Homo sapiens: one gene and its partners. The protein of the gene in region 1 interacts with the protein of each later gene in a biochemical or structural test. Each region holds a gene or a part of one and is shown in the gene's direction. Other genes may lie near its edges.

Region 1 (11,090 bases):
TGGTAAGGGTTTGGAAATCAAAACGTAACGTGATTCTTCTATGTGAATAAAGTTTATTTTTACAGTTTCACGCGCTTTTGTAGATTACAATCCGAGATTGGGAGTTGTGAGGGCAGTTTCCACCTTGAGTGGCATTTTTTTATTTATGGGAATACCAACAGGCTCGCTGAGATTGTAGGGTATGTTAAGCAGTAATTCAAAAAAAAAATTATTTTTTTGAGACGAAGTCTCGCTTTGTACCCCAGGCTGGAGTGCAGTGGCGCGATTTCGGCTCACTACAATCTCCGCCTCCCGGGTTCAGCCGATTCTCCTGCCTCAGCCTCCTGAGTAGCTGGGATTACAGGCTCCTGCTACCACGCCCGGCTAATTTTTGTATTTTTAGTAGAGACGGGGTTTCACCATGTTGGCCAGGCTGGTCTGGAACTCCTGATCTCAGGTGATCCACCCGCCTCTGCCTCCCAAAGTGTTGGGATTACAGGCATGAGCCACCGTGCCCGGCCTCAAAATTTTTTTTATCTGTAATGGTATCAGGTAGCGTTATGTCTGGATGAACTAAAATCAGACATAAAACGTTTCAGGATCGGAGTTAGAGTCTTGCTAGTAGAATTGTGTGTCTTTAAGAAAAGATGGCCTGGCTTGGCGCGGTGGCTGACGCCTGTAATCCCAGCACGTGGGGAGGCCGAGGGGGGCAGATCACGAGGTCAGGAGTTCGAGACCAGCCTGGCCAACATGGTGAAACCTCATCTCTACTAAAAATACGAAAAGTAGCCGGGTGTGATGGCGGGCGCCTGTAATCCCAGCTACTCCAGAGGTTGAGGCAGGAGAATCACTTCAACCCGGGAGGCGGAGGTTGCAGTGAGCAGTGATCGCGCCACTGTACTCCAGACTGGGTGACAGAGCAAGACCCCCTCCGGAAAAAAAAAAAAAAGGGTGGCCTGGTTGAAGCCAGTCTTCTACAGGGAATGTGCTGTTGCTACTCTGGGTCAGTAGTGTCCGGATTGGGACGTGACGCGCCCAAGATTTGTTACTACTTTGGATGAAGTGGGGACCGCCCCACTCTTCCTCTCCCTCCTTTTCTTTTTCCGTTCCCTCCCTCCCTCTCCCTTTCTTCCCCCCTCTGGTATTTTTTAACCAAATAGAAGGAGTCAAGTTTAAACCATCATTAACTAACTTTGCCTAATTTCCTAAAGTTAAGAATTACTTTTTTTTTTTGCGCTACTTATGGCTCTGATTAATCTTTTAATTTCAGATGTCAGTTGCTTAGTTTCAAAACTGTTGAGCCACATGTATGTTATTCACCAATTAGAAGTTGAACTGTAGTCGGGTAGTGAAAAATATTTCTTTCAAAATTTAGGTGGGGGCTGCTGCAGTGCCAGTTGGCAGTGTGCCAGCAAGGAGCCCTTAAGCCCTCCATGCTTTTTCCTCTGACTGGGGGGACTTATTTACCTGTATCACTTCATGTGCGGTGTCCTGCATTTCTAGCACTCTCTAGTGGCCCAGTTAAGGAAGAGTTGGTTTGGGAAATAGTTTAACAAACCTGATGATTAACAGTTGGACAATCTGCATAGGATTTCCATCAGATCTGTAAGCTTAGGACATTTTGTTTTTTAAATTTTATTTTATTAAAAATTATTTTTTGTAGAGACAGAGTCTTGCTCTGTTACCCAGGATGGAGTGCAATGGTCTGGTCAGTGATCACTGCAGCCTCAGATTCCTGGACTCCAGCCTCTCCTGAGTAGCTGGGACTACGGGCGTGTGTCACCACGACCGGCTAATATTTGTAGAGACAGTGTCTCACTATATTGCACAGGCTGGTCTTGAACTCCTGGACTCAAGCCATCCTCCTGTCTCCCAGAGTGCTGGGATTACAGGCCAGAGCCACTGAGCCCAGCCATATTTTTGGTTTTAATGATATGAACTTGACTGTAAAAGTACTTTAAGCTGATGATTGTGCCACTGTACTCCAGCCTGGACAACAAAACCTATCTCAAAACAAACTTCAACTTGAATTATAATCTTTGTAAACAAACAAAGGTACTTTTTGAGATGGACATCTCAGGTACAGTTTAAAGAAATGAATCCCTGAATGAATAGGAATTACGAGTTTTGTTATCTAAGGACAGATGGATTATGCATTTTGTACCCAAACTTTGATTCTTCTTTTAACAGGCAGAACATGACAAAAACATGACCAGGCTTGATAAATTTCTGTCCAAAAGAAGCTTGAATTGCAGTAAAACTCTGTTTTTTGAGATGGGGTTTTCACTCTTTTTGCCCAGGCTGGAGGGCAATGGCGTGATCTCGGCTCACCACAGCCTCCCCCTCCAGGGTTTAAGTGATTCTCCCAAGTAGCTGGGATTACAGGCATGCGCCACCATGCCTGGCTAATTTTGTATTTTTCGTAGAGATGGGGTTTCTTCATGTTGGTCAGACTGGTCTCGAACTCCCAACCTCAGGTGATCCGCCCATCTTGGCCTCCCAAAGTGCTGGGATTACAGGCATGAGCCACCGCGCCTGGCCCGAATTGCCATAAAACTCTTGTATTGCAGACTATAAAAATATTTCTGCCGGGCATGGTGGCTCACGCCTGTAATCCCAGCACGTTGGGAGGCCGAGGCGGGCGGATCACGAGGTCAGGAGATCGAGACCATCCTGGCTAACACGGTGAAACCATGTCTTTACTAAAAATACACAAAATTAGCTGGGCATGGTGGCACGCGCCTGTAATCCCAGCTACTCGTGAGGCTGGGGCAGGAGAATCGCTTGAACCAGGGAGGCGGAGGTTGCAGTGAGCCGAGATCGCACCACTGCACTCCAGCCTGGGCGACAGAGCGAGACCGTCTCAAAAAAAAAGAAAAAAACTATTTCCATGATTTAGGACTGGCACGACCACAGTGGCGTCTCCTTTGTGTTTTTGGTGTGTGTTAAATATAACAAATTTCTTACCATTTCAGGGTTTGTCTGTAAAGATAGGAACTGGCAGGAAGTGATTATGATTTAACATTCTACATTATATTTTGAATATAGACACTTTGGAGAACAGGTAATGTTTTTAAAACCATTTCTCTCTTTGAATCTAAAATTTTATGGCACTGTGTCCTCAAAACACTTTTTTAAATTTTTTATTTTTTATGTATTTTTTTTTTTTTTGAGACAGGGTCTGTCTCTCACTCAGGCTGGAGTGCAGTGGTATGATCATGGCTCACTGCAGCCTCGAGTTCCTGGGGTCCAGTGATCCTCCTGCCTCAGCCTCCCAAGTAGCTGGGACTACAGGCATGCGCCACCGCACCTGGCTAATTTTTGTATTTTTGGTAGCCATGAGTTTTGCCATGTTGCCCAGGCTGGTCTTGAACTTCTGAGCTAAGTGATCCTCTCTCCTTGGCCTCCCAAAGTGCTGGCATTACAGGCATGAGCCACCTCTCCCAGCCATCCAACAATGCCTCAGTCTGTCTTTACTGGCTCAGCCAGGTGCTGGGATGGTGGTGAGCACATTGTAGAGAGCTCTCATTACTTGTTTTTATTTTCATAGTCTAGCTCATTTTCCTGATACGTGCTATTGTATTTATTTATTTATTAAAAAAAAATAAAAGACTGAGTCTCCCTATGTTGCCCAGGCTGGTCTTGAACTCCTGGCCTTAGGAGATTCACTTCGGCCTCCCACAGTGCTGGGATGATATGTGCTATTTTAAAAGTATACTTTAAAACTTTGTTTCTTTGAGGAATTTACTTTTTATTTTATAGTGAACTGGATCTTTCAAATCATCACAACAAAACATTACACCATTCATACTAAGTGGGGTCTAAGTAAAAGATCTAAAATGTAAACATTTTTCTGTTTAAGGTTTTAATTTTGAGGTCATTGTAGATTGACATACTGGTGTAAGAAAATAGAGTAATCCTGTGTATCTTTCCCCAGTCCTCTAAGGGTAACTTCTTGCAGAAATGGAGTACAATTACCACCAGAATATTGACATTGATACAGTCTATCTTCAATATAATCCACCATCTCATTCAGATTTCCCCGCTTTTACTTCTACTCATTTGTGTTTGTGTATTTAGTTCATTAACTACACTGCATACTTTATTCAGAACTCATTGGTTTTTATGTAATGTCCTTATTCTGTCTCAGAATCCCACATTACTTTGAGTCTTCACGTCCTCTTGGGCTCTTCTAGACAGTGACAGTTTCTCAGGCTGTCCTGTTTGGTGACCTTGAGAGTTTTGAGGAGTCCCGGTCATGTAGTTTGTAGAATGTCCCTCAGTTTTGGTTTTCTGATGTTTTTCTCATGATTCAGCTGTGGTTATGAGTTTTGGGAAGGAAGACCAGGGAGATGAAGTGCCCTTCTCATTCCCGTAAATTAAGGATGATGCTGTCAAGATGTCTTGGGTTGCTGGGCTTGACTGAATGGCCGAAGTCATGTTTGCCAGGTTTCTCCACTGTGGAGTGACTCTTTCCCTCCTTTATGTACTGTTTATAATAGAAGGGAGTCACTCTGCATAGGTACTCTACCGGGGTGGGGAGTTCTGTTCCTCCTCCTTGAGGATGGAGTAGCTACTTAAATTATTTGGAACGTTTATGTATGGAAGATTTGCTGATCCTCACTCGTGTGTTTATTCATTTGTGTATATCAACATGGACTTGTGGATATTGAATGTATGCTTTGGGTTATCATCCAGTGCTGTGTGGTTTGTTGTGTTGCTCCCATCATCTGGCTGTATCCACTGGGAGCTCTTTCAGCTGGCTCCGGTGTCCCTTTCACATAGCCACATTATTTTTTGTTCGTTGTTTTTGAGCACTTCCTTACTTTCTGGAACTACACGATGTTCTGGGATCATCTTATGTGTTTTCTGCCCCAGCCTTAGACTCCAGCATTTTCCAAGGATCCCTAGTTTCTTTTTTGGGAGAATGGAATTAGATCTCAAGATCTGGGCACTGGTGTGTTCATCATTACTGGGATATCCTGGCTTCTTGGCCCCCTCAAGGGACAGAGCTGGGAAACAGGTGTGTATATACAAATGCGTGCATATACACGTCTGTAATTTGATATATATTCATCAGCATCCCTATTAAGCTCTACATGAGTTCATGTTTATATCTCCAACTCTAATCCATTTCTATAGGGATTATTCTAGCCTTCCCCTCCAGTTTATCTGTAACTTCTCTGTCCAGCAGAGAAAATGCTGGCTCCCACTGTCGACAATCTACTTACTTACCTGTTGTGCTTTGGTATACATGAAGAGAGGTTTCAGAATTGTCCTGTACTCCCTTGGGAAATGACTTGACCCCCCCCCCCCTTACAGTACAGTGCTCAGTTACAGTTCCTTTTGCTTTTAGTCTTACACTCCCTCCTCATTTCCACATTACTTAGGTACTTCCCTCCCCACCCCTCTTGGCGGAGTTGTGTCCTATATGTGTAATACAATTGGTTTCTTCTGCCTCAGCCTGCATTCCATAGGGCCTCATCAGTTATTTTTAAAATCGCATATATTAAGGTTTGCTCTTTGTGCTTTAAAGCTCAGTGGATTTTGACAGAGGCATCCACAACTACAGTACTGTACAGAACAGTTGCACTGCCCCAAGAAATCCCTGTGCTTCACCTTCTAACTCTCCACAACCACTGGTCTCGTCTCCATCTCGGAGGTTTTTCCCTTTCCAGAATGTCATATCATTGGGTTCATACAGTCTGTAGCCTTTTCATACTGGCTTCTTTTGTCTAGCAATATCCATTGTATCCATTGAGTGGATTGAAAGTTCATTCCTTTTTTTTTTTTTTTTTTTTTTTTTGAGACGGAGTCTTGCTCTGTCGCCCAGGCTGGAGTGCAGTGGTGCGATCTCGGCTCACTGCAAGCTCCGCCTCCTGGGTTCACGCCATTCTCTTGCCTCAGCCTCCCGAGTAACTGGGACTACAGGCGCCTGCCACCACGCCCAGCTAATTTTTTTGTATTTTTAGTAGAGACTGGGTTTCACTGTGTTAGCCAGGATGGTCTCGATCTCCTGACCTTGTGATCTGTCTGCCTCAGCCTCCCGAAGTGCTGGGATTACAGGCGTGAGCCACCGCGCCCAGCCGAAAGTTCATTCCTTTTTCTTTTAATGGTATTTATCATGTGGCTATACTGGTAAGTCGTTTAAGTTTCTTAATCTGTAGGTTCTCTCTTCATTCCTTTCTTACAGTTTTTTGCTTCTACTTTATCTGTTGAAAAACTTGGGCCTTGTGACTTGTTGACTTCCCTATAGTCTGGATTTTGCTGTTTGCATACTCAACAGTGGAAGTTCAAAGTGTTGTGGTTTGTTTTTTTTTTGTCCTATTTCCTACAAATTGGTAGCAGGGTCTCCTATTAAGGCTTTTCCTGTATTTAGCACACAGACTTGATCACCTTGGTATTAAGCGGATGGAAGCTTAGGTAGGAAGTAAACTCAGTTTTCAAGGATTAAAATGACCCGCCTAATGGATATGTGAGTCTTTTTCTTGCCTCTTGTTTTATGTTGGCCAGTACCTGTAGCAGAGGGTGCTGAAGAGTAGAAATTGAGATAGAATTGAGTGTGAGTTTTATTATTATATGTTAGCAGCTCTGGTAAGAAACTCAGAGAATTAAGTGAGAATGGTAGATTAAAATGAGGCTTTAGGATAATGTGATTGCTCCCCATACATGTGTAATTGACAGTTGTGTGAGGTGAGCTCAATTTAAAGGAAGACTAGCCTAAGCTGGTCAGTACCAGGAGGATTTTGCCCCAGTTTGCTTCCGTCCAAGTGTGTGTCCCTCAGCACAGCATCTCTTGGGCTTCCTCATTTCCTGTTTATGATAATAGAGTACTCACCCCCATCCTTGAGGGATACATTCCAAGACCTCCGGTAGTTGTCTGAAACCACAGATAATACTGAACCCCATTTGTATTACGTGCAAACTTTTTTCCTTCATAATTTCATGGATAGATTTGTTCTTACTGTAGATCTTAGCAACCTTGTTATTTGATATTGTTTTCTTATTAAGAATTTTTACCTTTTCACGTAAAAGAAGCCCTTTATGGCTTTTCTTTGGCATATCCAAATTGCAGCATCAGTACTCTTGAGCTTTGGGGCCATATTAAGCCAAATAAAAGTGGCTTGTGTTCACTTTTATCCGTGATCACATCCGCAACAGTTGATGTGATCAGCAAGACAGCTACCAAGTGACTTAACGGGCAGGTGGCCTAGATGGCACGGAGAAGCTGGACAAAGGGATGGTCATGGGACAGAGCGGGATGTCACTCAGTTTCATCATGTTTCTCAGAACGGCGGGCAGTTTAAAGCTTATGAATTGTTTATTTCTGGCATTTCCATGTTACTATTTTCAGACTGAGGTTGACTGTGGGTAACTGAAACCACAGCAAGCGGAACTGTAGGTAAGGGAGGACTGCTGTGATATTTTATATTTCATACGTAATTTCCTTCTGGTTTTGGTAGTTGGGATACACTTTTTAGGTAGGCCTGGCAAGTAAGTCTCCTGACCTGTCCAAGGACATCACCGGCAACTGCTGGGTCCCAGCCTTGAAATGAGGTCAGTCTGAGGTCTTGCCTTTGCTGAATGAAATTACCCCTTCTGTAAATTGAAAGGTCTGGAGTCGCTGTACCCTTAGATTGATTTTGGCTCCGAGATTGAGGGGCCTGAGTCTGGAAGCTGAGGTTTTTGAGGTTGGGGAACTTAATTTGAGAAGATTATCTAATTTTGGCAAAGTCTTTAGCTTTTTAGTGCCGTATTTTTTTTTTCATATAAAGGATAGAATATTTAGGCCGGGCACGGTGGCTCATGCCTGTAATCCCAGCACTTTGGGAGGCTGAGGTGGGTGGATCACTTGAGGTCAGTAGTTCAAGACCATCCTGGCCAACATGGTGAAACCTCATCTGTACTAAAATACAAAAAGTTAGCCGAGCATGGTGGCACGCGCCCGTAGTCCCAGATACTCGGGAGGCTGAGGCAGGGGAATCACTTGAACCCGGGAGGCGGAGGTTGCAGTTAGCGGAGATTACGCCACTGCACTCCAGCCTGGTGACAGAGCAAGACTCCTTCTCAAAAAAAAAAAAAATTATACCTGTCCCTTCACTTATGTCAGTGTTTGAGTCCTTGAAAAAGTCACTGAAGAGAATGCACAAGAATTAAACTTACCTTCCTAAGATGCTCAGGTTTTAGACCAGTAGGAAGTCATGGGTAATGTGTGAAAAGTGCACTAGCTCTTAAGGTGGTGTGTCATGTTTGCACACTTTTAAAAGCTGGACTCAAAATTCAGTGTACTGTTGAGTCATCCCATAGGGTAAGTCTGGTTGACTACAAGGGCTCTGCCCCTCTTGCTCCTCCGCATCCTTCTTGGGGTGGGAGGTAGTGTGAGTGGGGAGATAAGAGGACAGGATATTCAGAGGAATATTCTTAATATCGGGACCAAATTAATGAATTTGGCAGGGTGTTTCTGTACTGCATAAGATCAACAACAATTAAATAATTGATCCTCTTCTAATTCCTGTCACATACAAATCCTAGTTATGTTTCAGGATTTGCTTGCAGTCTACTGAATCTACTTGAATTAATTTATAGGAGAAAAGGATTTAATTCAGAAATCATTGCAAGGGCTATGGAGTAGTAGATTCTAGGTTGAATTTCTAGGAAAACCCGCCAGCCTGGGGAATCCTGCCTCTGCAGGAGCCACCACACCAGAAAGTGGTGTGCTGGGCTGCTTAAACAGTGCCACCCCTCCACGGTCCATGTCAGCCTGTGGATGCCCCCACTGGGCCTCTCTCCTTAGCTTACTCACCAACCGCATCGTCTGCAAATGTGTCTCAAGATATGTTTGGAACATGAGCTGCAAGGGTGCCTGGGGAATGCATTTTCAACTTTTTTTTTTTTTTTTTTTTTTTTTTTTTTTGAGACAGGGTCTGGTTCTGTTGCTCAGGCTAGAGGGCAGTGGTGCGATCTTGGCTCACTGCAGCCTTGACCTCCTGGGCTCAAACCATCCTGAGTAACTGGGACTACAGGTGTGTGCCACCATGCCCAGCTAATTTTTGCATTTTTTGTAGAGATGAGGTTTCACCATTTGGCCCAGGCTGGTCTTGAACTCCTGGCCTCAAGCTGTCCTCCCACCTCGGCCTCCCAAAGTGCTGCATTCCTGGCGTGAGCCAACACGCCTGGCTGTGTTTTCTACTTTACAGTGCTGTGAAAGGAGATAGAATAAAAATGAATGTGAACCCCATGTGAGTGACCGGGCCTGCTGTAACAAACCACCACAAACCGATTAACTTAGAACAACAGAAATTTCATCTCAAATTATGAGACTGGACGTCCAAAATAAAGTGTTTGCAGGGTAGCCACTCCAGAGGCTATTCCTGGCCTCCTCCAGACACTGGAAGACATGTGCTACCTTACTCCTGTGTCTGCCTCTGTTACATTTAAATCTGATACAGTATTATCAATGGACGTGCTGTTCCACAGTGTAGATTGGGGAAAAATAATAATGCAGTGTTGGCATTGTTTAACAACAGGATACATTCTGAGAAATGCATTGTTAGGCGATTTTGTCTTTGTGTGAACATCATGGAGTGACTTAACACAAAGCTAGATGGTACAGCCTGCTGCACACCCAGGCTGTGTGAGATGGAGCCTGTTGCTCCTAGGCAGCAAACCTGTACAGCACGTACCGTACTGAACACTGTAGGCAGTTGAAAGACGGTTGTAAGCATTTGTGTTTCTATAGCTAAACATAGAGAAGGTTACAGTAAAAATATGATACTATAATCTTCTGGGACCGCCATTGTACATGCAGCCTGTCATTCACTGAAACATTGCTATGTGGTGTGTGACTATACCAGACATAAGATTGAGGTTTTATCAGTATGTCAGAGACAGCTGTTTTCTGTATTTAGCGCCAGTTGTCTTGTTGGTTGGCTGCTTGAATAATGTTGGAGAAGCTGTCTCTTAGCTGTGTTGGCTCCATAAGGCCTGTAAAATGTGTCTTCCCTGGTGATTGGTAAACCCGTGCAGGGGAGCATCCTAGGTTGTGTAGTAGAGATAGACCATAATGGAGTGTGTAGCACAGTCCTAGGTTGTGTAGTAGAGATAGACTATAATGGAGTGTGTAGCACAGTCCTAGGTTGTGTAGTAGAGAGAGACTATAATGGAGTGTGTAGCACAGTCCTAGGTTGTGTAGTAGAGAGAGACTATAATGGAGTGTGTAGCACAGTCCTAGGTTGTGTAGTAGAGAGAGACTATAATGGAGTGTGTAGCACAGTCCTAGGTTGTGTAGTAGAGATAGACTATAATGGAGTGTGTAGCATAGTCCTAGGTTGTGTAGTAGAGAGAGACTATAATGGAGTGTGTAGCACAGTCCTAGGTTGTGTAGTAGAGATAGACTATAATGGAGTGTGTAGCACAGCAGGAGCTTGTTGTGTTTAGTTGTTTTGTTCAGTGTTAGGTTTCTGAGATTCATCCACGCTGCTGAGTATATCATAAGTTCCTTTTCATTGCTGTGTACTTTACTCAATTAACTGTAGTATAGTTTATTCTTTTTACAAGTCATGAACATTTGTATTTTCAGCTCTGCGGTGTTGCAAGTAATAATGCTACAAAAGTCCTTGTACGTGTCTTTGGTTGCGTATAAACCTATGAATTGAAGCGTTAGGCTGTAGGGTACATGTGTTCAATTTAATAGTTGTCTTCTATCCATTTATTTGGAAAATAAGAAACCTACAACAAATAGCAAGAATGCTAAAATGAATATTGTATACATTTATATGGATTCATCAATTGTTAGCTTCTTGCTAACTGGTTTTATGTCTGTACCTTTTTCTGAATCATCTGAGGGCTGACTGTAGACATCATGGTAGTTTACCTCCTAAGAACTGGGACAGTCTCCTACATAAGCGCAATACAGTTATCACACTCAGTTTAATTTTTCAAATAGTACTATCTAACATACATTGTCCAACTTTAAATACCTGAATTGTTCCAATAATATCCTTTATGCCTTTAAAAATTGGCGTATAGGATTCAATCCAAGATCATGGATTGCATTTGATTTCATGTGTCTTTAGATTTGGTTCATCTAGAAATTCCTAGCCTATTTTTCT
Region 2 (11,486 bases), on another chromosome or scaffold:
CAGCAGCAATAGGAAACAAATACACATTCCCACATGGAACAGGATTAACTTTGGCTGCATATGACAGAAAACCTAAGAGAATGGCAGCTGAAGCAAGAGGTATATTTGTTTCTTTCTAAGAGAAAGAGAAATCTGGAGGAGGAAGTCCAGGGCTGGTAATGGTATTCCATAGTGTCAAGGACTCAGGCTCCTTCAGTCTTTTTGCTCTGCATAACTTAAGGAGCTCTAGACAGCTCTGCCCAAGTTGAGAAAATCTAGCAGGATTTCAATCCACAGGAGGAAGGGAAAGGATGGTGAAGCATCTGTTTTTGAAGATCTTTGTCAATGTTGTGCACACCACTTACATCTCTTTGGCCAGAACTAAGTAGCATAGTGAGACCTAGATACATACAAGAAGAGAAACAGAACCATTTTTTTTTTCCTAGAGGCAGGTCTCACTCTGTTGCCCTGGCTGAAGTGCAGTTGTGTGATCAGAGCTCACTTCACCCTTGAACTCCTGGGCTCAAGTCATCCTCCTGCCTCAGCTTCTTGAGTAGCTGCAACTGTAGGTGCGCTTTACGATGCTTAGCTAATTTTAAAATTTTTTGTAGAGAGTAATCCTGCTATGTTGCCCAGGCTGGGCTCCAACACCCGGCCTTAAGCAATCCTCCTGCCTTGGCTTCCCAAAGCACTGGGATTATAGGCATGAACCACCACACCCAGCTAAGAATTATTTCAAGTGTGATAAAAATGGACAGTTCTATAATTTTAAAAGAGGAAGAAACATATTAGGGACAATTAGCTCTATCTTAATATTGTGGTATGATTTTTTTCTCTCATTGTTTTAAATATGTAAAAGTTGTCTCGCCTAGATTTTAGATTAAGGCAGAGGCCATCATTCCACAAATAGGTTATTGAATAATTACTACGTGATAGTGTTTGCCAGATTTTGCAAGTACATACATTGGAACGTGAGTATATACTTGTTCAACAAATGACATAAGACATTTATATCACATTTAACATTAGTATTGTAATTAATGGAAATAGCAGAATTATTGGTTGGTAAGAAATAAGGTTAAAATGCTTTATTTCTATACGCATATTACTCAGGGTCCTGGCCGGAAGCATATAGCACATTCAAAGGATACTCTGAAGAGAGTTTAATGAAGAGACTATTTACAGAGGTGTGGACAGGTTTTAAAGGAAGGAGTGATGAAGCAATCAATCATTACCACCCTGGGCCTGAAGACACAAAGAGAAGAAGCAGTTTCTGGAACTTGGCAAGACCTGTGGCCATGGGATGAGGGTGTCGGACAGGAGCCAGGGACCTCAGGTAGAGGAACGAAGCTAGAGCCACAGCCAGGCAGCAGGGAATAGAATAAATATCCTGACCTCTCTCTTTTTCCTTTCTCTGATCATTTGCCAAAGCCTCCAAATTGGCTGAAACCAAATAGGAACCAGAGGGCAAAGAAGCCTGGGTGACGTGACTTCCACAGAAGTCAGCCTCGCAGAGCATGGAAAGGCAGAGAATGGACTTTGAAGGACAGAGCATAACAAGGATAATATGAAAAAGCAAAGCATTTCACAGAGTTGGAACGATTCAAAAAATTTTAAACAAAAAGAGAAAGGGAAATGATCCAAACAGAGCGGGCACAAAGAAAGACAGAGGAAGGGAATGATTACAAAGTAAAACAGTGGGGGAGGGGCACAATGTCTGATCTATTTATGTAAGTAGGATAAAGAGAGAGAGAAAAGAAATAGAGGCCTGAGGTCTGAAGAGAATGAGAAGGGTGTGACCAGGGATCTTAAAGTTGTGGATATAATTGGACACAGGGTATTTATCACCATCTTTCTCATGTAAGTTTAATACAATGGTAGAACATCTAAAACCTGTTACTGATTGCAAACATTTTAAATGCATGTACACCAAGGATGTTCAATCCTTGCCTCTGTTCAGAGGCAACGACTGTAACTGAGGATCTGTGGTTTACAGAACACCAGCACTGTAGGTCAAAGAAACAGCCATACTCTGTAACAGAATCAATCAGCTGCTAAAAGAAGTCAAGATGACAGAAAAAAGAAATACGTGGATACAAAAGAGAAAAAACAGCAGTAGAAACCAGCTATCAGACCACTGATATCATGGTAAATAATTAAAATTCACTTAAATCAAAAATATGTGTGTTGCTTCCTCTCAAGTTACCTACATATAATTAAGTGTAGAAAAAATTAAATGTTATTCATATTCATAAGTAATATTAGTAATAGAAACTACAATCTAACTTCTATGGAGGCAGCCTTTGAAAGAAATCCTTTTTAATTACTGTGACTTCATGGAAAACACTAGTTTTACTTTTTGGATATTCACCGACATCCTGCAAACATCTTTCTCCATATATTTATATCTATCTCTGTATTACACACGTTCCTGAAAAATCACCTCGTAAATAAGAAACTACACGTGTTAACATTTCATTGACTTACATTAAAAATAGGAGCCTCATTCCCCAGAGGGGTAAGAACCATTCTGTGGTAAACTATGTAACAAAAATCACATGGAAGTATGGAGAAAACATTTGTCCCTGTGATATCTCCTGGGAGGCTGTATTCGAAGGGCTGGCATGGGTCCTGTGGCCAACTGTGGGTTCTGCATCACCCTGTAGTCATGTTTCCTTCCTGACTCAATGACTGCAGAATTTGGTGAGACTGCAACAGTGAAATGACCATTGCCCTCCTTTGTTCCACGGTGAACTGCAAATCCAGAATTACTGTAGGTCAGGAGCCATGGTCAGAGACAAGAATTGAGTAGCGGCTTTATGGGACCTCTACATTCTGTACTTTGAGGGATAACATGTATCACATTCTTTTTCCTTCAAAAACTCTAAGATTAAAATTAGGTATTGAATTCAAGAGTTGCATTTACATGCTATCCTTCCATGAAATTAACGAACTTTAAATTTTGATGAAGACTAGAGAATTATACATTGCACTTCTCAATGTGTTTTGGAAGAGGTATGTGGGAATGATATGCTTCATGTGGAACACCGTGAAATCTCTACATTTTAAACTTAAGATAATTTTATGTCAAATTTTATCCTAATTTATACAGGAATCATATATGAAAAGCAAATAGGTGCAAAGGGTTTATGAAAAATTTATAGAAAAAACTCAGTATTGGAACTATTCTATCCATTTACATTTTTCCCTGTAAATTTGGAATAGTATAGAAATTCATTTTTAGAATATCTTCCCTTCAGCATATATAATCCCAGTGCTCAGTAGAAGCAGTGTGTTAACATTTCATTGACATATTAAAAATAAGCATATATATTGAATGTATGCTGTATGACAGCACTACAATTACTAAAACCAAGAATGCAGGATACATGTTAAAGTCATATATTAGTATCCCCTACCGTTTGATTTGAATAAACCTAAATTTTAATAATCTTCTTTTATAAATTGATTCTAAAGATTTTTCCCCTATTCTTTAGCTGTATTTAAGAGATAAGAAGCAACCGTCACACATGCATCATGTTTAAAGCAGTAATTTATTCTGAGATTTACTTTTGTCTGTTTTCTTTCCAGTCCAGGTATCAATATTTTCAAGAATATTAAAGTATAATAATCAAACATTCAATTCATAACATATATGCTTATCAGAAGCTTTTACAAAATGGAAATTTTATGTTAGAAGATTTGGGCTACCAGTAATATTCACTGTGCATATTTTAAAAAAAAAGGTGAACAGAGTTCATTGTTTAGGGAAAATGATTATGGAGAAACTAAAATCAAGAGCAATTTTAATGTGGATATTAATGACAGTGATCACTTTCATATCCATGACTTTATCTGTTCCTAAGGACTAAAGGGATGAAGGCAGATTATGTACCTTACTGTCAAGAACAGGGTCAGAAAAGGTCAACAATATTAATTTAAGAAATGTTTATTAAGCATCTACTATTGGCTACGTACTCCACTAGGTGTTGAGGACATAGAAATAAGAAAAAAAAGTTACCTGAAAAGGTACTTGTCCACAGTTTGGCCCAAACTAACTAAACCAGAAACCACTAAAGTAAGGAAGAAAATGACTTCTGTTTGTCTCTTCACTTCATCTCTCTATGAGGTGAGGATGAACACTGAAGGAAGCTTAGCAGGGAGGTACAGGCCAGAAAGAGAACATGAGAAAATGCTATTTGTAATACCTCCTAAGTTTAAGAGTAGGTAAAATGTGTGATAGAGCTGGAAAGTTTTTTTTTCCTTTCTGGTCAGAAATCAGGGTAGCTGTAAAAATGTTGGTGGGGTGGGGTCAATTCCATAGTCTATGACCTGATTCGGTAGGCGACTGAAAAACATTGTACAACTCTTAAAAAAAGGGAGGAAGAACTCACACTTAACCAAGCAAAGCAAGGACACCGTGTTGACATACACAAGTTTCGGTTAACATGGTATCAAGGAAAGCGAGGACTGCCTGTACTTAAAATGATCATTAAGACTAATGATTCTAGTTTTGGCATTGAGGATGAATGCAGATATATAGACATAATGTATAGCAAAGAATATTTACAGTCACATTTCATGGACCAATAAATAACGCATTTACTTCTCAAAATGCCCAAGAAAATGTGGGAGAGAAAATGTTCATTTATATTCAAGATTAAACTTTCTAACTTTAAATCATCAGACTTCAGCTGTAAATTTATTTCAGTTGAAAGGTTTGAAGACATTATTAATGAATATTCTAAAATTCCGGAAGGTGTTTAAAAGATAATTTTAACCTAATAAAAAAATCCTGCCATAGAAGTGACAAAAATTATAAGCATAAATTTATTGAGCACCTACTATGTGTCATTGTGCTAGGTGATGTACTACGTTATTTCCAATACTCCGGTCACGTTTCAGTTTTCTCAATTTCTCTATCAATAACTGCTACATTGTTAATTTATAACTATATTACTTGAAATACAGCTCAGCTTATTTATTCCATAAAGTTGGTCCCAAAGACGTTTCCTTATTCGAAGGAGGTGGGAAGCAGGAAGGAAACCTAAATCTAAATTCTACTTAATACTGAAGACGACTTTCTTGATATTTGTGGTTATCTGTATGGTCTTTTCAGAAATCCCAAAACTTGTACCAAGTCAAGGATAAAATAAGATAAAATCAGCAATCTATCAGGTTCAGAGATCACATCTGTCAGCCGATGCTTCTTGCCTTAAGGTCCTGCACGGCGATGACCGCTCATTTAGGAAGGAATTCATGGCCTGTGGATACCTTAGCTCTGAGTCCTGCCACCTAGGATCCCACGGTTCTACGCGAGGAAGAGGGCGGGGAGCGCGGACCGGGTGTGGGAGGCCGAGGTGACAGCAGGTGAGGGCCGGGTGCGGATGGGGAAGTGAGACAAGCACCGTGTGGGTATTACTCATTCCGCTCTACTAAGGAGGCTGCTGGCAAGCGGAACTTCTAGCCTCTCTTTCAATCCAGCTGAAGTTCAATCTCATTGAAGTCACTTCCCATCCCGGTTCGCTTGGGGGGAAACCAGGCGTCCCTGGAAGGGAAGGGAAGGGAGTCCGGGCTGCGCGGGTCAGGTAGCCTCTCTCCGGTCGCCGCGTGTCCTCGCCGTCCCCAAACCTGCCCTTCCCCTCATCAAGGGAACTCCCCGGGGAGTCCAGACCGCGATCCCTTTCCTTGGCCCCGGGGTGCGGGGGGCGGACACGCGAGGCGTGGGACTGATGGTAGCCCTGCCTCCAGGAAGCAGGCAGGCGGGGACCTCTGGGCGCTCGGAGGGGCAGCTCCGAGGGCACAGGGTACAGGGAGAATCAGCCAGATCCCTCCCTGCCCCGGGCAGCCGCGGCGGGTGTGGCCAGCGCGGAGGCAGGACGCCGCCGAGCCTCCAACTTTACCTTTCCAACTCCGACAGCCCGTCGCCTTTCTGACCGCGTCCCTACGGTTTCCCGGCATCCGCCTCCCTCTCCCCACCACACCTGAGGAAAACTTTTCCCTCGCCCCTCAATTCAAATTCAGCAGTGCCCACGGTTGCCGCAAACCGCCCGGTCCCTAGCAACAAGGTTCCGGCCGTAGAGCGAGAGCCTCTAGGTGTAAGGAAGGTGATGTCGTAAAGCCGGGAGTGTCGTAAACCAGGTGCGGTGGGGAGGGGGGAGGGGTGGAGGCGGAGGGGTGGGGGGGAAGGGGGAGGGAGGGGGAGGAGGTGACTCGAGCATTTAGACACAAGCGAGAGGATCATGGCGGATGGCCCCAGGTGTAAGCGCAGAAAGCAGGCGAACCCGCGGCGCAATAACGGTGAGTGGCGGAGGGGACCGGGGAGCGGCGGAGTCAGGGGGAGCTGGGCAGCCGGGGCGCCCCCGGGGGTGAGGGGGGCGAGCCGGGCTGGGGGCAGCCGGGGCAGGGACGGCAAAGTGGAGTGGGAAAGTAGAAAGTAGTGCTCTCTGCCCCCCTCCGCTGCCGCCGCTGCCGGAGCCGCGCCGCGGCCGCTCGCTCTCCCTGAACCGTTATGTCTCTTACCTGGTCTCTCTCCGCCTAGCGGCTCCCGCCGCCCCTGCCGCCTCCCTGGACCGTTAGCCGGCGCCGACGCCGCCGCATCCCCGGCGCAGGGCGGGCGGCCGGGACGCACTGGCCACTTTTCTGGTCCCGGGTGGAGCGGCTGTTGCTTCTTTCCGCACTTTTCCCCACTCTTGTGCCCTTCGGCGCCTCCCTCTCCCCCTCCTCCTGGCCCCCTCAGCGCGATTCTCCCTCAGCGCCCAGGCCCCCGGGAGCCGCGGAACAAACTTGTGCCCGGCGCTGACCGTGCAAAGTGGCTTCCGCGCGCCGCGGCCCCGGCCGGCGCCGTCGCTGTCGCTCGGGCCCCGCGACTCGGGCCGGGCTGTGGGCGCGCGGCAGGCGGGCTGCGGCGGCGGCGGGACGGGGCGGCCGCGGGTTGCGTGGGGTTTGTGCGCGCGTGTGCGCGGGCGCCGGCTGTGCGCGCCGCGGGCGGACAGGGTTCGGCCGGCGGCGGTAAAGTTGGGACCCGCGGGCCGGGCGCGCTCGCGTAACGGGGATTAGAGGCGCGGGGGCGCGGGTCCCTAAGCGCCCCTCCTCCCTGGCGCCTCCCGCTGCCCGGCCCAGAGCCCCGGCCTGGGGACTCCGCGGCGAGCCCCGCGAGTGGGGTCCACGTTTGGCGGGGCGCGGCGGGGCGGCGCGGGGAACAAGGCAGGAAAGGTACCCACTTAACGCCGCCGGGAGCCGCGCGGATGGGGGCGAGCTGGGCGGCGGGTGTGTTTGCGGAGTTGTTACCTGGGCTTAGAGACCGGGAAGCACCACAGACAGATCCCCCTCCCGGGGCAGACGAGGTCTCTGCGCCGGGATGGGCCGGTGTGCGTGCGCCTCGCGCTTTTCTCTTTCGGTTTTTGGGGAAGTTGTTACCTGGGCCGGACGCACGGAGCGCTGAAGCCGGATAATGGGGCTTGGATGGCGCTCTGGGTCTCGGGTGGAAGGAGGGTGGGGGAGGGGGCGGACGGACCGACGGACGCGCGGGGCTGCTACTTGCACCGCAGCTGCAGTGTTTATTGATTTGTGCTGCTGTGCCAAGGGAAACACACACCCCTCTGCCTGGCGTGAGAGTTAAAAAAAAAGAGAGACAGCCCGAGGGATCGAGACCTGAACATGTGGTGGTGGTTGCACAGTCGCCTTTTCCAGTTTGGAGAGACGTTGTAAGTTGATTGTATTTCTGGTTATCTCGGGGCGATGCTATGCTTTCTCTCCCTCTCGTGCAGCAGCGAAATGTCTGCTGATTGTTATTGTCTGGACAGTTCCTGTGGCGAGAGGGGCGAGACTTGTCCGCCCGGGGGCGGCGGGAGCGCAGGGAGAGCAGCCCCCGCCTGCGCCGCCCCGGTACCTGTTTGTATAATAATGGGCGGCAACGGCCCTGCCGCCGGCCGCAGCCCAGGCTATATAAGGAATTACACGTACATTTCGGACCGAGGGGCTCGCTTTGGTTCCTGCGTTATTTTTAAAACGACTTTTAAGAGAGGGGCAATAAATGCGTCTATAATGGGACCGCTGCAGCGTCGAGAAAACGAGGAAATACGTGTTTAGGAGAAAACTCTCTCGTGCTCCCCCAGCCCCACCCCCCGCGCCTGGGCTCCCTTTCTCCCTCCCCTCTGGGATGCGAAACGCGAGGTTTTGTAACCTTTCCTGGCAATTTTAGATTTTGTGTGGGATTTCCTGTCTAGAAGCAGATACGAAGATTTTTAAGCTGTTTCAAGATGTTTCCTTCCAATCCATAATTATATTTTTAATATATTCGAGCCATCATTAAAATCACTGCTTTCGTGATTTTAATTATTCAAATAAACACTTGCATTTTAAAGACGTCTGTTGATTATAAACGAAAGGTATTTTGGTATTCTCATTGTGGAGAGATGACTTGTTATAGCAAGGAGTGGAGCATAGGCTATTGCAATTTTAATTTCCTGTTTTAGCGTCAAATAGTGTGTGTTCCATATTGAGCTGTTGCCGCTGTTGCTGATGTGGCTTTATGAAAGGTAAGTTGGTTCGGAAAGAGCTGTTCGCTTTTTACCTTATTTAAAATGTTGATCGCCAGAGAAAGGGGCTTTTCTTGTTGCTGACGACATGTGTGTGACATGTGAGTCTGAACCACCCAGCGTCTGTGCAGCTGCTGTAAACATGTTTACCTGAACAGGAAAGAATGGATTTTTCTCCTTGAGATCCTGTGATATGAATATTACACTCGTAAGGCATATCAACAGATGACTTAAGGGGGGAAAAGCGATCCTGAAAGATACTTGAAATCAACAGGAAAGAGAGGTTCTTGATCGCTGCAGCAAATGGCAACTTGTGCAGGTAGAAAAAAAGATGGTGTTTAGTTTTCTCCTGCATGTATGTCAGCCCCCTCCTGTCTGCTGCTTTCATTCTCAAGGGAGGGATTTATTTACCACGCTTGCTGTCAGTGTTTTTCCTTTGTGTTTAATATTAGAAAAACAGATTTGCGTCTGTTTAGCACAAAACGTCTTGTCTGCAGTATGCATTACTCTCAGAAAACAAAAGGTGTTTAAGATAGCACTGTACTACTACAGGTATCTTCCATTTTCATCACTTTTGGCTCTGTCCTTGTATTTCTTTTTGTTCTCAAATGCATTTCATCCATTGCTGGTGATTATAGCCATGCTATTTGATTTAGCCTTATATTTTGCAAATTAAAAATGAAGTTATATTCCATTGTGTTGTGAAACCTCAGTATATGTGCTGGTTAATATTTCTTAGCAGTGCAGTCATATTTAAGTTGCAGATGTTTATTGGAGAAAATTGCCTGGCAAAACGTTAACTCTCAAATCTTTTTAATGAAGAAATATGTGATATATACAGTGGAAGATTGTCGTAGAGATAGTTTATGTTGTTATATATGTAAATAATGTTTTATTCATTTTGAAATAAGATACGTGGATTTTGCTGCTAAGCCTTCTGTAAAATATTTTAATTTCCTTTCTGGAATATGTCTGAAGGTAGGATATTAAAAGGAGTATCAGGTAATGTAACTGACAGGGGTAAACCAATTGAGTAAGGTTTGGCCAAAGCATCAAACCTTGTGTGGTAACTTAATGATGTTAGTCATCCGTAAAGGAGTGACATTAGAATTGCTTGAATTAGTTTTTACCATTTATAATTTCATGCTTTGTTGCATTTTAAAAAATCTGTCTTTTTCTTTTTCTGCTTTCTTCTATGTGGTTTTCTTCTTGTTCTACCTTTTTTTTTTTTGAGAGAGAGATGTACTCTACTAATGACCACATGCTGATTAATTCTCTTTAGATGGAATAGAAGGTACATATCCTTCTGTCATCAGCACCATTTCCCCTTGCTGTCATTGGAAACCACCAGTAGAGGATGCTAACAAAAATGATTATTGGTGTGGTAGCATCATAAGTCTCTCTATCGACTGTGCTGATTGGGACCTTCAGTATAATTCTGAGTCTTATTGTTACTTAAAACTAGCCTTGGTTAAATTAGGCATAAGCATTTTCTAGTTTGCCGAAACTAGAAAGAAGCAGGACTGTTTTAACTTGAATAATTTTATAAATTTGAGTTATTTAAGTCTCTAATTGAGATTGCTGTTAATTCATTCTTGTTTTAGAGCAGTTGTATTACTCCTTATTTTAAAAAGATTTTGTTTTATGTTCTTAGGTTTGGAGAAGAATATGTAATAATTGACCCATATTTATGTTGCATATTTAGAATACTTTTTAATCACCCCTTTTTAAAATTCATAGTAAGATCCCTTAAAATATATATTTTAGATGTTAAAATACATCTAAAATGGTCAAAGTTTAAGAGTAGCAAGGAAAATTACAATTGATTGATAATACTGTGTAATTATTTTTATATAACTTATGTAGACTTAGACTATGGATGGGTTGGCAGAGAGCTACTAACGGAGGTGGTAACTAGCAGTCACTTAGATGTTAGTGATTTTTAGATTTTATCTTTTCCTTCCCCTTCAGGTCTTTTCCTACTGGTAGCCCTCCCCCACCTTTTTAGTTAAGAATCAGTGAGTGCATACGTTTTAAATTTGTCAGTTGTAATTAAGGAATATAAGTTTGCTTTGAGATCTTATATGCAGTAAAACTCTGTAGTTCGTACGTTGCTGTATGCTTGTATTTAAATAATTCCTTTCAAGAAACTATATAAATTGCATATAAATAATTGCATGAGACTGTATTTAGTTATGTCTTTTCATTTTGTGTTCTTATAGGTATATTAATATAACTGTAAATTTTAAGCCTCTCATTAGGTAGAACATTAGAAGTATTTATTTCCTTAATTATTTTTAGTGGTGTTTTTATAAATGCATCAATATCAGTACCGTAATGGAATAGCCATACTGTTTATCTTGAACTAAGTAGGTATTGAATTGCCAGGTAAGCCTGTGTTAATTTCTTATTTTAGGATGTCATGGTTCTTCGTGTGTGTGTGTGTGTGTGTGTGTGTGTGTGTAAATAGTTTTTCATTTCCTGACAGGTATTTCTTGAATTTAGTATTCTAATTCCTGAGGGCTCAGTAGTGAATAGGTGTGATTCACTTAAATGTTTATGAACTCAGAAACTTTGCCACAAAGTCACGAGATACATTGTAGCATGGAGCAAAACTTAAAGTATCTTATAAATTGAAAATATTAATCGTTTATGAAGATGACCCTGATATAAAAAGCATGTGAAATATTTGTTTAATACTGTTTTCTTCCTTTCTCTAGTCTCTAGTATGTTTGAAATGGCATACCTCCTATGTAGTAGCTTTTGAAGCATGTGCTGAGAAACTTCTGTTAAATTGAGAATGATATTTTTAAAATAAGAGCATAATGATTTCTCATAGTTGTGTTTTTCTTTTGCTTTATCCTCTTGTGGATTTACCTGTATAAATCACTTTTAAGCATGTGGTTAGAGCCAGATGTAAACACAGATGCAGTATCATGTGGAATTATATTGTTAGCTACTCTTAAC
Region 3 (8,186 bases), on another chromosome or scaffold:
TCCTTTTACTACCATTTTTTTTTAACACTGTCATCTGTAGGTCACTCTCCAGCAGTTAGGCACCTTAACTGGAGACCAGAAACCTTCCAGAGAACACAGGGCTGCATCCCGAGCAACCCTCTGAAGAAGGGAATTAGGCTTTAGATTTTGATAGCAATGTTCCAGGAATGAAATATAGATGTTAGCCCAAGACACCATGACAAAATAGCCCAGCCTTTTGAGAGTAATTTGGGAAAAGAAGCTGTCAGAAGTTTCTAACTTACAAACTGGTTTGAAATTTTTGATGCCCAGACAGCAAGTATAAATCATTTTGGAGGCTTACTTTTCATGATACAAAAGCAATTCTGTGTGATTTTTTTTTTTAAGAAGAAAGAAAATGCAAGCTAGTTTTGAGAAAGGAAGGCCAAATTGGGTCGGGGGAGGGTGGGAGTGAGGAAGTTAAAATCACTATAGGGAGAAAAAACTTTTTTCAAGATTTCCAAAGAGATGAAATTTTCTTAATCCTTTTAAGTTTTCATAGTAAACAGTATGGCAGATTGGGTTGGTTGTCCTACCTGGTCTATTTTTAAAAGTCACCTTTTAAAGTGACATTATTAGATACACTTAAATGTTTCCAAGGCACTCTCTACATTACCCTTGTTTTTCTCTTTGGATACTGTCCTGGGACTAAGTGTAGATTTCTGCTTCAAGCACTTCTGGCATTGTGTGTTTTTGTATGCACTCCCCTTCATGCCACTTCAGATGTTTATTTGGATGTGGTTGGGGACGAGAGCAGACACCAAGGAAAGGGAGTTGGAGAGAATGTAAGTCCTGACCTGAAGGTCTTTTGTGATGCATGTATAGGATTGCCCTGACACACACCCTCCTTTCTTGGGATTATACCAGCCATCTTCCTGAGAGTTTTGGAGCCCTCTAGGATATTTTTTCTAGTACCCCACCCCCCACCCCTAAAGAAAGACCTTAATATGTTAAAACAGCATTGCTTGGAGAAGGTGTCATTGAATTCCGGGACGAGCCGGAGCCTTTAAATGGGTGCTTCCACCACTACAGGCTCCTGACACGAGTAACAGGCACTGTTGCTTAGAAGAACACACGAAGTTGCCGAACACAGGGTAAAATTTCCAAGGCGCTGATCGTTGCCCTGGCCAGGGCCTGATGAGAGCCAGTCAGTACATTCTTTTTTTCCTACAGTTCTTGGGTTTCAAACTTCAGTTTCAGGGAATTTCAAGTCAACAACAGGTAGAATGAATAAACTTGGTTACCAGCCTAATAATGTGAATTGCTACAGAATTATTCTTATTATGTAAGAAAACAAAAACTTTATGCAGATACTTTAGCTATAAATTGATGTAAAATACTGATTTTTTTAAAGGAAGGAGAGAACAGTATCTTGTTCAATTATTATGCAATCAATCAGTAAATGTTTTTAAAATGATACTACAGGAGAGCTTAGTAAGGAGAGGGCATGGATGGGCCAGTTTGGCATAGTTGGGAGAAATCAGTCTGGTTTCCATCCCAGTCGGGGAAGAGAGAGGTGAGAGGGAATCAGAACGTACCTAGTTGATTCCTTGGTGACAAGTGCAATGGGGTATGGGTAGAATTTATTTTCAGAGCCAAGAGGACTTGATGGTTATAAATAAAGTTGCCTTTAGCAATGGAATTTACAGATCGATCATGTTGTTCCGAAAGATGTGAATAGGATCCACAATAACAAGTTGATTCAGACTAATGTAGATATTTAGATTAGCAAGTATTGAACATTTGATTTCTTAGACTGAGGTTTTAAATGAATTTCATTATTTCTCCCGGTAATACACAGAGCATCGGGATTAGGAAATTAGCCATTTTGGATTCTGTCTGCCACAAACAGACCTATTCTAAACAGTGCTATTAAATTTTAGACTGTTGTTCAAATATTTTATTTTCTCCTAAACTACTTTTTATGGTGATGAATAATTAAGACCATTTAAAACACGGGAGTACAAGTATTTTTTTGAATTAAATTAACTTGCAAAAACCAAATTTGCAGTGGTTGGGTTGTTTCTAGACAGACTTTGGTATCAATTTAAAACCAAGATAATTTTTATATTCTTTCCAATAGAATTTCATGACAACTCCTGCAGTTTTCTTAACCTACAAAAAAAAAAAAAAAGTGCTGCAATGATGAACAAAGAATTATACAAAACCTACTTTTGTATCTTTATTTTGGAATTTCTTGTTCTATTATAAATATGGAAGTATCCCTATTTCAGAAGACATATTTTGTTAAAAATGAATTGTACATATTTAAATATGTATTTTTGCACAGGTCTTTTTTTCTGATATCCTGTTTTGGTACAATTGAGATCATCTAGTATTTATTTATTAATTAATAAAAGTAAATACCTTTTTATAATTTGAAGTGGTTCACTGCCAAGCCAATAGTTCTAGAACCTGCCTCCTTTACAGTTTTAAGGGATGCCTCTGTTCTGTGAAAAGTCTTTGTCCCTTTTAGTGTCTCGGGAGTGGATTCATACAGATGAAGTGGGCATTGCTTCTTCCTGGTTGCCTGGTTTCCCGATAGACTACATGTAACTAAGTGACACACTGCTTTTCTTTTGTTAGTATTTTATGTGTGGGAGTATGTGACTGCGTGTGTGTGTGCCTGTGCGTGTGTGTGTATACTCAGCACATGTATGTTACTATGTGATGTGGTTTAAAACTAATGGAAAAAACTGAAAGTGCCTGAAACTAGTTTTAAGCTTAGACAGAATCTCTTTAAAAAGACTTGAATGTTCAGTTGAACTTTTGGAGTTTGCTTTTTCCACCTAAATATTGTTTCTAAAATTTTAGGGGCGGAGTTGAAAACCACCAATGCTGGTAATTTTATAAGGTATTTTAAAATTAAGACCTCTTGGTTCATAGTAATTCAATTGGTGATGGATTGCCTGGTGGCACCAAGGGTTACAGATCTTTTTGTCAGCCAGCAACTTACACGATGTGTCCGTTTTGTTATTCACTCATGAAATACAATTTAAAATATTTAAAATATTTTGTATTCCAAAAATATAATACAAAGAAGTACCTCTGAGAACATTGAAAAAAATGTATAATTTGAAAAATGTAACTTATAAGGGCAGCTGTCTTCCTGCAAGAGTTCTGTTGCCAAGGAATTTCTTAATGTCGCTCATTCTGTCCAGGGGGTTTGGGGCGATTGGGCTTTGAAAAAATATTCTTAAAAGTTTGTTTAGCAGAAAATAATCACTTTTACATTTTGTGCAAAACATTTTACATTTTCAGATAATTTAAATGAGCACTACATACTGTCAGTGTGAATGTAGGGCCTTGAAAGCATTTTGCTTTTTTTTTTTTTTTTTTTTTTTTGAGCTTGGTTATAAAAGCAATCTCCTGTGTTAAAAACGTGTGAATAGTTTGATAATTTGTACACATAATCAAGAGCATCTCAGCTGGACTTTGTGTTGGCTGCTGTATAGAACATGAACAAATGTCAAGGGATAGAAAATTACTTTGGATATTTAAAAGAGAAGAAATATATAGTCTATTTGTTTTGTAACAAGTTTCTGTAAATAAAATAATTTATACTATTTATAAGAAAAGGTTGTGCTTTGCTTTATAAGAAATTAGCTTGTGGAACAAACATGTTACTAAACGGGCAATAAAATTAGGACTTCTCAATAAATAAGGTTGGCTGCATGAAATATTGTACGTTTCTGCCTCGTTGTGATACTAAACCCTTTCAGTCTACTCTGACTTTTCATCACTTTTGGCATGGAACACCCTTGTGAAGCCCCTTCAATTTAGCCTTCCTCTTATATAAGCTAAATACTTCTAAGGCCTGGGGATGTTTCCATCTGGGGGCACAAAGCTTTGCTTTGGATAAATTAGTAACTGTGTAAACAGTGAACATTACTGTATTCTGGCCTTGCATGTTTGTGAAAGAAACGAGGGAGTTGATGGATTGAGAAACACATTCTATTTGTACTTAGGTGCAAATTTGATGACATGTAGTTTTGGTTTAAGATAAGCTTTTTATCCAGACCCGGTCTAATCTCTTCCTTTCTTTTACATACCTCCCTTACTGGCAATACAAGTGCATTTTAGTATTATTTGGAACACAGCATAATCATTTACCTCTAGAAATCCAGACATTTTTACTGTTTGCAAATAAACCATTCTGATAAATTATTTTTGTTGCTTAAAATAAGAGGAGGAACCGCTGTGTGTTAGCAAGAATGTCCATACCTGATATGAAAGAGTCATGTTGGCTTCAGTTCCTACTGCCCTGTGGACTTCCCATTCCCTCCTTACTTGAGTCAACCATCCACTCAGTACTTTCCACAAATCTAATAATGAGGTGCTCTCTGTAGGTAAATCCTTTCACTATGGCTTGTCCTCAAACCTCCCAAGAAAAGGTTCAACTGCTCAATCTCTTAACCTTTTTAATTCCATTCCCTTGCAGGTATCCCGGCCCTGCATAACAAGATGATCCCAACTCAAGGAAAGGGGTTTAGCAGTGTTGGATCTTGGCGTATGTGGGATTTAACCAGGCAGAAAGGCAGACAAGAGTAAGATTCTAGGCAGAGAGAGCAAATGCGTCGAGCATGGGTATGAACATGTGAGGGATAGAGAATAATTCTGCAGGAAGTTTGCTGGATGGAAGGGCCTTATAGGGTTAGAAAAGCTGGTGTCAGATTGTCAAGGACTTTGAATGTCATGGGGCTTCTCTTCCAGGAACACATGGGATCAGGCTTAGATTAACCCAAATGTAATTGTCAGAGCCCAGAGATATTTCATGGTCCAGTCCTAGCACTGTGCAGCTGCCAAAAGTCAAAGCCATTCAAATCTGTACTGAAAACTGTGGAAAAGCAAAGGAGCACTTAAGTCTCTTTCCCCATGTCTTGCATTCTCACTCTCTTTTGCTTCAAAGATCTGTCTTTACCTGCCCCTGTCCCCAGTCCTAACAAAAAGCACTCCCCTAAATCAACTCTTAAGTTCCTCTCCCTTCTCACTCCTTTCTTAGTCTCCTCTTTCTGTAAGAAGTTCTTGCTCCTGTTGTTAATGGAAGTTAATTAAAGTAGTATTTCACCTTGTAAGGCTGTAATTCTTGGCACTTGTTATCCTCATTTTCTACATCCAAAGACCATGGACCAGAATATCTCTTAGGAGGTAAGGGAGAGTGAGGCTATCAGCCAAAGAAAAAGTCTCCAGGGGGAAGGGGAGAATCACTTATAATTTAATACTTTGTGGAAAAAACATCTCTGCCACCTATGGCCCTCCAATAACAATGGAAGACAGAATCAACAGGTGAGAACCTTGGGACAAAAATAAGTTACAAAGCTGTTGTAATCCAGGTAAGAGCTATTAAGTTTCCAAACGAAGGCTGACTGTGAGGATAAGTGATACTGATTTCAGAAATCTTTAAAAAGTAGAACCAACAAGCCTTGAGGTCTAACTCTGTTCAACATTAAAGGGAAGAGTGAGTCTAAGAAGACTTCAGGTTTCTAGCTTGGCCAAACCAATTGAGCTTTAAGTGAAATGTGCGATATGGTAACAGAGAAGGAAAAAGACATAACGATAGATTTGAGCTGCTGGTGGGAAATTCTGGTTTAGTGCCCAGCTGGCTGTACAGGCTGGTTGGACTTTAGGAGGGAGGTTTGAGCTGGAAAATAAAGATGGAGAGTTGTCTTTCAGTTTTAGATCATCAGTGAGGTCATAAGGGTAGATGGAGTTTACCTGGGAAAATTAAGTAGCTATTCGATTTGGCTTATTATTATGTTAAAATAATACTTCTCTAGTGAAGTACTTAATATGCCAGATACTGTGCCAAGCATTTTATATACATCCTCTCTTTTACTAAGCCCTCATAGGGCAGGTATTTTGATTCCAATCATACTGATTGGAACTCCTAAGAAGGTATCTTGCTTAAGGTCCCACAACGAATAGGTGGCAGATCCAGGGTAATTCAGGTCTGTCAGAACAGTGATTCTTAATTTTTTCCCTCCTCAGACTCCAGGAGTCACATGAAGTTATGCATCCTGTCTGACCGAGGCACAGGCACACCACATTTTTATATTCCGCTTCCAGGATATCACAAACCTGAAGCCCATCCTCCATGGCCCAGAGAGAAAACCCAGGACAAAACCTTGGAGAAGACTATTTTCATGAAGACAAATGGAGAAGGAGCAGTAGAGTAAAAAGAGAGGTAAGGGAAGGCATTGAGATGGTTTACAGGGTTAGATGTTTTGAGTCAATCCCATTATAATTACCAATGCTATCTACCTATTTAGTTAACGTTTTATTGCCCTGCTGTTTTCTCCAGGATAATTGGAACAGCATGTATTGGTTGGGTGGAAAAGATAGAACTTGAGCAGGGAGATTGCCAAAGAGTGAAGATGTGGCTGAGTGATTGATGATGGTCTGAACTGGGTATTCAGGGAAGAGAACTAGAAGCCAACCATGTAGAATCTATGCAGGTGCTCTTAAGACATTGGTTTGACTGGAATTATCTTCTTGTTAGGTCTTAGGAATCTCCTTCCAGGTAACTTTTTCTATGATTAGACAATTGATTTGTTCAGGGTCACAGAGCAAAGTCCACATTTAATTCCACATGGCCAATAAAAGTGAGGGGCTACAAGGTGAGATCCAGGGGCCAGAGTTATCAAAGTGATACAGCACTTTTAGGAATAGGACAGGGAATGGAGGAATTGGAATTCCAGTATTACTTTCAAAAGCAGAACTGGCCAGAGGAATTGGAATTCCAGTATTATTTTCAAAAGCAGAACTGGCCAGAGGTGCTTGTGATTCCTGGGTGGAAACCATGGCAGTGGACAGAAGCAGCATGGAGGAAAAGAGCACTGGAATTCAGGCTGAGGAACTGTGAAGCCAAGGGTGTTGTATAGGTTGTCCATTTCAAATTAGGGTTGCTTGGTTCTGGGATGATTTGCATGGAAGAGGGGAGAGTGACTTGGAGATGTGTGATTGAGGACAGTGAGCACAGTGAGTTGATGGTGTTGCTGGGTTATAAGCAGCTTCAAAGAGAAGGCATTTTGAATGAAGGTGGAAACATAATGGCCAGGAGAACAAGCAAAGGACTAGGAAACAGTGAACTTCATCTTGGCCTCAAGTTCCTGAGGTGCATATGAATAAACAGTCTCTAACCCAGAGGGTTTCAAGAAAAGCAGAGTCCTCAAAATCCAAAGGTAGAGTTTCCCCACATTGATATTATACTAATTACACGTATAACAGTACTTTGGAAAAGCACAGGTCTCTGGTCACCTCTAAAAGGCAAGGTTGGTAAGGAGGTCAGGGTGTCACCTGTTGGTAGTCTTAACTAAATGGTCTCTTCAAGGGATCTAAGGATGGAAAGGGGATATATAATGGTTGGATTAAAGGCTCATCATTGATTAGCAAATTGTCCCTTTTGTTTCTTAAACCCAATTTGTACAGGGAAAGTTATGCCACTGTAAGATATTTTTAAATGGGGAAAAAAAAAAAAAAAAAAAAAAGGTTATACCCTTTGACCATGTATGTCAAGGTTAAAATGGCCTGGATCAGATTGCTACAAATTCCTGATAGCCTTTGTATTCCTTCAGAAACACAAGCATAATGCAAATCTGTGGCTCTACAGCTTTGAAACCAAAACTAGTGATTATCAGAGCTTTTCATGTTATCCAGATGGGGATTTTACCCCACTCCCCCATTGCCATTGTGGAGGCACAGGTTTGTTACCAGCAACTACAAGTTTATGTAGCATTGGGAAGGTCAGGGATTATCATAGTTCCCTCCACGCTTTTTCCCCCATAATCATGGGGGCAGATATTTCAGCTGTCAGCTGTTCATCTTAAAAACATTAGGTTAACAGCAGCACCAAGGACTAATTCAGAATATGAAATTACAGAAATGATTTGCTAATGATTTAGTAGCCTTTTATCAGTTAATGTTTGGTCAGGTTATAAAAGACCAAATGTGTTCAGTCACAAAATCCTAAGTGTATTGAGTATTGCATGCTTAGTGATCAAGTTGTAGGCATCCTTCTAGCCATCTGGGGCAGGTAAAAGTTGGGTGCTTAACAAAAGTGGTTTTTACACTGTTTCTGTCCTAAGAGACACTGTTTTTTAATAGCTTAAAAATTGACCTAAAGCTGTTATTTCTAATACAGGAAATAGATTACCATAATTTGACATAGC

The links.
Region 2: the proteins of USP22 (region 1) and ZEB1 form a complex in vitro, tested with the Homo sapiens proteins (one study listed by BioGRID).
Region 3: the proteins of USP22 (region 1) and ATXN7 form a complex in vitro, tested with the Homo sapiens proteins (one study listed by BioGRID).

What each region holds. Positions count from the first base shown.
Region 1 is NC_000017.11:21,030,726-21,041,815, reverse strand, and holds part of USP22 (ubiquitin carboxyl-terminal hydrolase 22), read left to right. Parts: intron 1-11,090. UniProt on the Homo sapiens protein: Deubiquitinase that plays a role in several cellular processes including transcriptional regulation, cell cycle progression or innate immunity.
Region 2 is NC_000010.11:31,313,014-31,324,499, forward strand, and holds the start of ZEB1 (zinc finger E-box-binding homeobox 1), read left to right. Parts: upstream 1-6,202; 5' UTR 6,203-6,221; coding exon 6,222-6,279; intron 6,280-6,501; exon of another isoform or gene 6,502-7,194; intron 7,195-7,269; exon of another isoform or gene 7,270-7,434; intron 7,435-7,540; exon of another isoform or gene 7,541-7,685; intron 7,686-8,187; exon of another isoform or gene 8,188-8,512; coding exon of another isoform or gene 8,513-8,519; intron 8,520-8,646; exon of another isoform or gene 8,647-8,822; coding exon of another isoform or gene 8,823-8,838; intron 8,839-11,486. UniProt on the Homo sapiens protein: Acts as a transcriptional repressor. Inhibits interleukin-2 (IL-2) gene expression. Enhances or represses the promoter activity of the ATP1A1 gene depending on the quantity of cDNA and on the cell type.
Region 3 is NC_000003.12:63,999,867-64,008,052, forward strand, and holds the end of ATXN7 (ataxin-7), read left to right. Parts: 3' UTR 1-3,596; downstream 3,597-8,186. UniProt on the Homo sapiens protein: Acts as a component of the SAGA (aka STAGA) transcription coactivator-HAT complex. Mediates the interaction of SAGA complex with the CRX and is involved in CRX-dependent gene activation.